Homo sapiens: one gene and its partner. The protein of the gene in region 1 purifies or fractionates together with the protein of each later gene. This does not show direct contact. Each region holds a gene or a part of one and is shown on either strand. Other genes may lie near its edges.

Region 1 (4,514 bases):
CTAAGTAAAAATCCCCAGCTAATTGTAAATAGCGCTAAAATAGTGAAAGCAAGCACTAGGTACAAATTGTTGCTGTTCTAAACCCCATACACAAACTAACTCATTTATTCCTCAAAATAACTCTACAACAAGGTAGGTACAATTATAATCCACAACTGCATTTGCAGATGAGAAAATTAAGGCACAGAAAGATTGAGTAACTTGACTGAGTTCACACAGACAGCAAGTGGCAGGGCCACGACATAAGTTGGGCCTTCTGACTTGAGTCTTGCTCCTAGCCACTATATTACACCACAACCGAGCTACTCAGACAACTGGAAATCACTTAAATCGTTTCTTATAAGAAACAAAGAGGACTCATTCAATCATCCTGATTGATAATCAGTGACAGACTTGAGGGAGGAATTGTTTGCAGTGTTAATAATCACCTACTTGCAGATCTGAAAAAGAAAAACCTTTTCCTCAACAAAACTCAAAAACTGAGTTGGACAAAAAAATGTTTTTCTAGTTGGAGACAGAAAGGTCATTTAGTAGTGCCACTGAGATGCTTACCCACAGTTTGGTTCCTGCTTAAAACAGTTTTCCCTGCTGGGCGCGGTGGCTCACACCTGTAATCTTGACACTTTGGGAGGCTGTGCCGGGCAGATTACCTGAGGTCTGGAGTTCAAGATCAGCCTGGTCAACCTGGTGAAACCCCATCTCTACTAAAATTACAAAAAAATTTAGCCAGGCGTGGTGGTGGGCGCCTGTAATCCCAGCTACTCAGGTGGCCGAGGCAGGAGAATCACTTGAACCTGGGAGACAGAAGTTGCAGTGAGCTGAGATTGCACCAGTGCACTGCAACCTGGGCAACAGAGCGAGACTCCATCTCAAAAAAAAAAAATTTTCCCATATTTCCCAAAATAGAAATATTTTCAATAAATCATTGATTCCACTCTTAATCTGCTTACTTCCCATGCAAAAGAGTCAAGGTAATGTCTACTACAAGCAAGATAAAATCATTTCAGACACTACTTTCTAGTTACAGAGTATAGAAATTGTCTCTGGAGAACTATATTTTGATACACATGCTAAACAATAGGAGGTCACTAGGACTCATCTGTAAGACGGTGGAACTCAATTTATCTATTCCCAAATGACTAATGGCAATGCTCATATTTTTTGGACAATTGCTGTTAAGGGATCCAATTCTCCTTATGAATTAAAGAAACTCTATGTTACTTCCTGTCTAAAAGGATTAATGGTTTACTACTAGTTACCAGTTGATGTGGTACTTAAGTTTCCTCAGGGCTAATGACCTGGTGGGGCTTACAGTACTATTCCAGGCCAATCATTGCACAGTCATCTCTTTCAAGAAAGTTTCTAACCAATAAGCAGAAGCCTAACTTTCTGGCTGAAAGCTAAGTGTCCCATATATTCCTGGGTGACGCTGAAGCAGGTTACATTTCCTCAGAAGAAGGCTCCTTGGTGGTAAGTTGAACATTTCTGGGCAGGGTAAAAATCATACTTAATATTATGTCATAAAGTAGATTCTGAGGAGTAGGTGAGGGTGTCAAGGACTATGAAGAGAAGTGTTTTGTAAAAACTAAAACGATAATAGCTTCATTTATAATTTCCCCAGGAAAGGTTACTTGAGAAATGAAGTTGAGGGTTTTTTTAATTCAAATACACAGCTTTAATAACTGCATGAGAGAGACAAGTTTTTATTTATATTTATCTCATTTTTCTAGAACTTCCCTTGAAAAGCCAAATTTTAAGGTATCAATAAGGAAATATAATTCTAAAGCAAGTGTTTTAAGACAGGCCAGTACTATGAAATTGCGAAAATTATTGTGAAGTCTATTCACCTCACAGTCAAATATAAACCTCTCAATTATTGAAGACATTTCATTAAAATGAGTCAGTAGAGCATGATTATTTTACCTAAACATAGCAGAGGACTTTTTTAAGGTATATGACTTATTTCTTATAGATATATGACTTATTTCTATATTCATATTTTTTTAAGGTTTCATGTTAGTATTTGCAAAACAAACAAATGTATGAGCAAATGAAACATTTGGATCTTGTAAAAGATCTAAGAATTCACAGAGACATCATCTTGATGGGATGTATTTTTTAAATGCATATTCTAAAACATAATTTTTTACTTGTTGCATAGGTAACAAAATTTGGAATTTATAAGTTGAACATGTACAGATTTTTATAAACTAGCAAGAATATATTTTTTAGAAGTTTTGTTTTTCATTTTATATGTTGTATAGTATATATTCCTAACAATCAAAATACTTTGCAGTTTCAGCATTTAGTACTGTCAGTGAACTGTGTCTTAGGCTGAGAATATTCTCATCAGCTCTTACTGTATTCAATAAGTAAAGTTACATCTTTTCTAAAGTCACAGTGAACTCCAGTGCACTGAATTCAAGCAAATACTACAAACACAGGTAACATTTTAATGACTGCATTGGAAGTTCTGTTTGCTGGAACAGTTTTCCAGTTATTTATTATCAGATTTAATTACTCACATGACTAAGGTTCCTGGACAGATAAATTTTAGTGAAATGAGTTTAAAATTGTATGTCTTGTAAAATAAAACTGTTCCCTTATATCCCACCCTTACCTAAATATATTTGTATTACTTGGAACAAGTTTAATTTTCTTTTTCAATGACAGCTTTGAAGAACATCCTGAAGATTATATCGGAGACAATATATCAAGAATCTATTTATTGAATCATCTAGAACAAAAGCCAGGAGCTCCCTAATGGAAGCACATTAGTGTTTATTTTGATGAAGAAATATATAGATTTTTTAAAACAACCACAAAGTAGATAGCTCAGTAAAAAATCAATTTTGGAAGATGTCACTGAACAACTCTTCCAATGTATTTCTGGATTCAGTGCCCAGTAATACCAATCGCTTTCAAGTTAGTGTCATAAATGAGAACCATGAGAGCAGTGCAGCTGCAGATGACAATACTGACCCACCACATTATGAAGAAACCTCTTTTGGGGATGAAGCTCAGAAAAGACTCAGAATCAGCTTTAGGCCTGGGAATCAGGAGTGCTATGACAATTTCCTCCAAAGTGGAGAAACTGCTAAAACAGATGCCAGTTTTCACGCTTATGATTCTCACACAAACACATACTATCTACAAACTTTTGGCCACAACACCATGGATGCCGTTCCCAAGATAGAGTACTATCGTAACACCGGCAGCATCAGTGGGCCCAAGGTCAACCGACCCAGCCTGCTTGAGATTCACGAGCAACTCGCAAAGGTAAGCTTGAAGGACACAAGCAAGTCTCCTCCCTTATTCATAACTTCAGATAATTTCCTTCTCTTTCATTACACTATGAATGAATGTGAAACAGTCAAATGGAGAGGTCTATTCCAAACACTATCCATCTTACTTACAAAACTGTCCCTAGTTCCCAGAAAAGTGTTTCACAGATGCTTTTTCTTTGGATTTTTTTTTTTCTTGAGACAAAGTCTTGCTCTGTCACCCAGCCTGAAGTGTGGTGGACACTGCAGCTTTGAACTCCTGGGCTCAAACAATCCTCCCACCTCAACCTCCTGAGTAGCTGGGACTGCAGGCATGCACCACCACACCTGACTAACTTTTTTATTTTTTGTAGAGACAGGGTCTTGCTATGTTGCTCAAGCTGGTCTCGAACTCCTGACTTAAAGGGATCCTCCCACCTTGGCCTCCCAAAGAGATGGGATTGCAGGCATGAGCCACTGTGCCCAGCTCCACAAATGTTTTCTGACTTAGGATAGAGAACTAAAGAATTAACTCTAAATGTTAGGCAATATGTTGTACCTTGTATATGATTATAGTCCACTCAATTCACACTTGGTTAAACACGTCAAACTGAATACCAAGCTGGTTTCACGTCAGTATTAATGTCTCTATGTCAATCGTATAAAAAGCAAAACACTTGTGCTTGCTGTAGTTAATACTGTGGGTGACAGCCTTTAGTGTGTAGGGGTATTTTTTATATTCTTTAAAGAAAGGGCAGAGATTTATAAGATTCAGCATTTTATCCCTTCCTCTTTAAAACTTTGCCTGAGGCTCCTGAATGTGCTTAAGCATATAAAAATAACTAAATTAAAGTACAGAAGCAGCAGAAGTGACTAAACTTTTCATTATTTAAGAAATACAGCCAGGGTTCCCAAGTCTGTTAGAAGTGAGGCAGCACTTTTCCCAATCTTTTTTGAGACGAAGTATCGCTCTTGTTGCCCGGGCTGGAGTGCAATGGTGCGATCTCGGCTCACCGCAACCTCCACCTCCTGGGTTCAAGCGATTCTTCTGCCTCAGCCCCCTGAGTAGCTGGGATTACAGGCATGTGCCACCACCACACTCAGCTAATTTTTTTGTATTTTTAGTAAAGATGGGGTTTCTCCATGTTGGTCAGGCTGGTCTTGAACTCCCAACCTCAGGTGATCTGCCCACCTCAGCCTCCCAAAGTGCTGGGATTACAGGTGTGAGCCACCATGCCCGGCCTCCAATCT
Region 2 (3,825 bases), on another chromosome or scaffold:
CTAGCTCAAGCTAAAGTCTGACCACAACCCTTATTTGGAGGAATTCTTGGTATCAGTAATTGTAGCTTTATGAGGAAATTTAAGTATCTAGGGTAAAGTGTAACAGATTCTTTACTACGGTGATTTTTGAAGGGACATTAATGTTATCTATATGTTTGTAGTATGGGGTGTATCTATCATATTAATAGTTTTATTATCTTAATATAAACGTAGATGTTTTTCAGAAGTAACTGTTTTAGAATCTTAGTTTAATAAGATAATTTTATACATTAATTTGTTATATGTAGTGGTTTATCTTGTTCATTTGGTCTTTTAACAAACATTTTAAGAGCAGGATAGCCAACCTTCATATGAAATACTTGTTGAAATATATTTTAATTTCAACCTTTTAAATTCTTCAGGGTTTTTTTTTTTTTTTTTTTTTTAGAACTGAGCAAAATTGTAAGCTCCTGGCTCTTGTTTTGCCCCAGGACTATAATACTACTTTCAGTGTTTTCCTTTTTCTTCAAAATATTTAATAATCAGTGTTCACTGACATTTTATTACATTCTATAAGATTACTCAATATTTATTAAGTACTTGATATTTATTTGCATAATATTAACATTTTAAAAATTAACTTTTGTTTTTGAAACAATTGTAGTCTTCCAGAAAAATTACAAAACTAGTAAGAGTTGCCTTTTGCCCTTTACCCACCTTCTTCAGCTGTTAATATCTTAGCAAGTACAATGATCAAAACCAGAAAATTAACACTAATACGGTAATACTGTATTAACTAATCTATACACCTTATTCAAATTTTATTTATTCAAATTATATGCAGTGGTTATTATTAGTGTCCTACTAGTATTCTTTTTCTCATCCAAGATCACACGTTGCATTTAGTGGTCTCTTCCAATCTGGGTGAGTTCCTCAGTCTTTAGTCAGTGTCAAAGTAATGAAAAACAATCTTGTTATCTCTCAAATTGGGTGTTTCTGCTGCTTTTTCATGATTAAATTCAGATTATGTATTTTCGGCAAGAATATCATAGAAATGATGTTTTGCCCTTGTTAGTGCATCGTACCAGGAGGTACATGGTGTTCGTATGTCTCATTAATTATAGCGTTAACTCGGCTAGGTCACCAGGAATTTTACCAACTGTTGCTTTTGTACCAGCAATGTGATGCCAGTATGAAAAAGATAACTTGTATCTTACATATTATTGTGAAAATACTTTTGACTTCATGAAGTCCCTCAAAGGGTCTTGAGGATTTCCCTAGAGGTTGAAGAATAACACTTTAAAAGTCACTGCCCTGGAGAGAATCTCTATTTGAGCACATAGAAGCTTGTATAAGAATGTTCACAGCAGTTACTATGGTTTTGAGATAAATAAAATTTAAAAAAGAATGTTCACAGCAGTGTTGCATGTAAAAACAGAAAATTGGAAAAAACTTAAATGTACCTTAGCAGGAGACTGGATAAGTTGTATGAATTTGTATAGTGCAGTACTGTATAGAAGAGAATGTTAAGCAAATAAAGTAAGTTGCAAAAGAAAACCTACGGTCTGTTAAAGTGCGGAACAAAACTATTTTAGGGTAGGGTTTTGCAGCCTTGGCACTATTGACATTTTGAATTGGATAGGATAATTTTTTGTTATAGGAATGTCCTGTGCATTGTAGGCAGGCATCCCTGGCCTCTACCCATTAGCAGCAGTAGCACCCCACCTCCTTGTGGCAACCCACAATATCTCCAGACATTGCCAGATGTCCCCTAGTGGGGGCAAAATTGCTCCCAATTGAGACTCATTGGTTTAGGGATATGTACATGCGTGGTAAAAGTATGCCACGTAAAGGTAAGATAAACACTAAATTTAAGAGAGTGGGACATCCTTATGGTGAAGGGAGTGGAGAGCACGATTGGTGGAAGTACACCAGGGGCATTTAAGTATTTTGGTAATGTTCTGTGATTAAACCTACCCCATGGTGAGTGCATAGGTGTTAAACACACACACACACACACACACACACACACACACAAAATTTTATTTTTTTTGAGACAGTCTCCCTCTGTGGTCCAGGCTGGAATGCAGTGGTGTGACCTCGGCTCACTGCAACCTCCGTCCCCCAGGTTCAAGCAATTCTCCTGTCTCATCCTCCTGAGTAGCTGGAATTACAGGCATGCACCACCACACCTGACTAACTTTTGTATTTTTGGTAGAGACGGGGTTTCACCATGTTGGCCAGGCTGGTCTCGAACACCTGACCTCAAGTGATCCATAGCCTCAGCCTCCCAAAGTGCTGGGATTACAAGTGTGAGCCACCACACCCAGCCCTTTCTATATTTTTGTGTGTGTCATATTTTTGTACTTAATTTAAAAAAAAGCCTTATATTTATCAGAGGGAGAACTGAGGTTGCCTTTGATTATTCATCATTTGTTCCCTAGTTCCACCTATATTATATGAATAGAAAATTTATTGCAGTATGATTGGGAATTAAGAAATGGGTAACCTTCAGCATAAGATTCCTTGCAACTTTTCTGGGAGTTAAGGATTCTGGAGTGGTTGGATCATTGTGAATCTTTCTGATACGATTTTTCTCACTACATTTTGAAGATTTTGTCTGGGAGTTGTATGCGGGTCTCTAATATTTTGGCATATCAGCTTTATTTTTTCTTTCAGGACACACATGATATGTTTGAATTTATGGTCTAGGATAGTTAAACTTTGCAGAGAGGAGCATTTAGTATCTGTTTGAGTGATATAACGTCTGTCTTGTTTCGAGATTCATTTGGCTCATTTGTAGTGAGCAAGAAGATTTTGGGACTATATGGGATGTTATTTAATTAGTTTGGACTAATTTTGTAAAGTCTGTAGTCAAGTAGGTATAGTTGACTTTTTATCATCTAGGCACTGATTTTATAGGAGTTGGAGAAAAATGTGTTTTTATTTATGCTTGCTTTGTGTTCACTTGACTACAGTGTTGTATTGTTACCAGAGATAATGGAGAAAATGAATGTAGATTTCCTGTTAAGGTTCTGTCATTCTTCGTGTCGATAATACAGAGTTAGAGGTATAGAAAATCAGCTTTATTCAAAACCAGCTTCTGGTCATAGTTCATTCAAACTGTTTTGGGGGTAGTTCTTTGTCCTTGTCTTTGACCGCTAGCAAAGAATGCCTCTCCAGTCATACGTGGAAAAACTTCTCAGATGTTTTGTATTCAGTTGAAGGTTTAAAAGGGCTGACCCTGGATTAAAAAAATGAAATGAATTAATAATCCTCAGCTTTTCTTTATCAGAATAGAGTCCCCTATTCTGATCTGTTTCTAGAACCACAGTAGAAAGGGGTATTTGTCAGGACACAAAGCCGTAGGAAAAAACAGGATTTGAGGGAACAATGTTTGGGGAGCAGGATGCCACACCTGGAAAGGATGAAATATCACAAAATGTTTTTTATTAATGACATCTGCAAGGAAAACTTTATTTCCTCATAGATCCTACCTATTTTAAAGGCTTCTGTAAAATGTCTTTCTTATTTTATTTCCTCCACTAAAACAATGTTGTAAATTATGAAAGTCTATCTAGTTCTTAATAGTCCCTGTAGATTGCAGCTTGGTTGAGCTGAGGACTTCAAGAAATCAACTAGTAGACCCCTGTGTCAGTACTTCTCAAACTTAAAGCACACAGATCACCTGGGGACCTTTTAAAATGCAGATTCTGGTTCAGTAAGTTTGGGATTCTGCGAGAGTATTTCTAATAAGCTCATAGGTGATGCAGATACTGCAGGCTCAAGGACACACTTTGAATAGCAGAGTACTAAGTGACTATTTGTCTACTTGAGATGCCCTGC

What was found.
Region 2: the proteins of SLC12A1 (region 1) and MIB1 purify together in Homo sapiens (affinity purification with mass spectrometry; one large-scale study listed by BioGRID and IntAct). This does not show direct contact.

Annotation. Positions count from the first base shown.
Region 1 is NC_000015.10:48,204,861-48,209,374, forward strand, and holds the start of SLC12A1 (solute carrier family 12 member 1), read left to right. Parts: upstream 1-1,441; 5' UTR 1,442-1,470; intron 1,471-2,673; 5' UTR 2,674-2,859; coding exon 2,860-3,279; intron 3,280-4,514. UniProt on the Homo sapiens protein: Renal sodium, potassium and chloride ion cotransporter that mediates the transepithelial NaCl reabsorption in the thick ascending limb and plays an essential role in the urinary concentration and volume regulation. Electrically silent transporter system.
Region 2 is NC_000018.10:21,743,695-21,747,519, forward strand, and holds part of MIB1 (E3 ubiquitin-protein ligase MIB1), read left to right. Parts: intron 1-3,825. UniProt on the Homo sapiens protein: E3 ubiquitin-protein ligase that mediates ubiquitination of Delta receptors, which act as ligands of Notch proteins.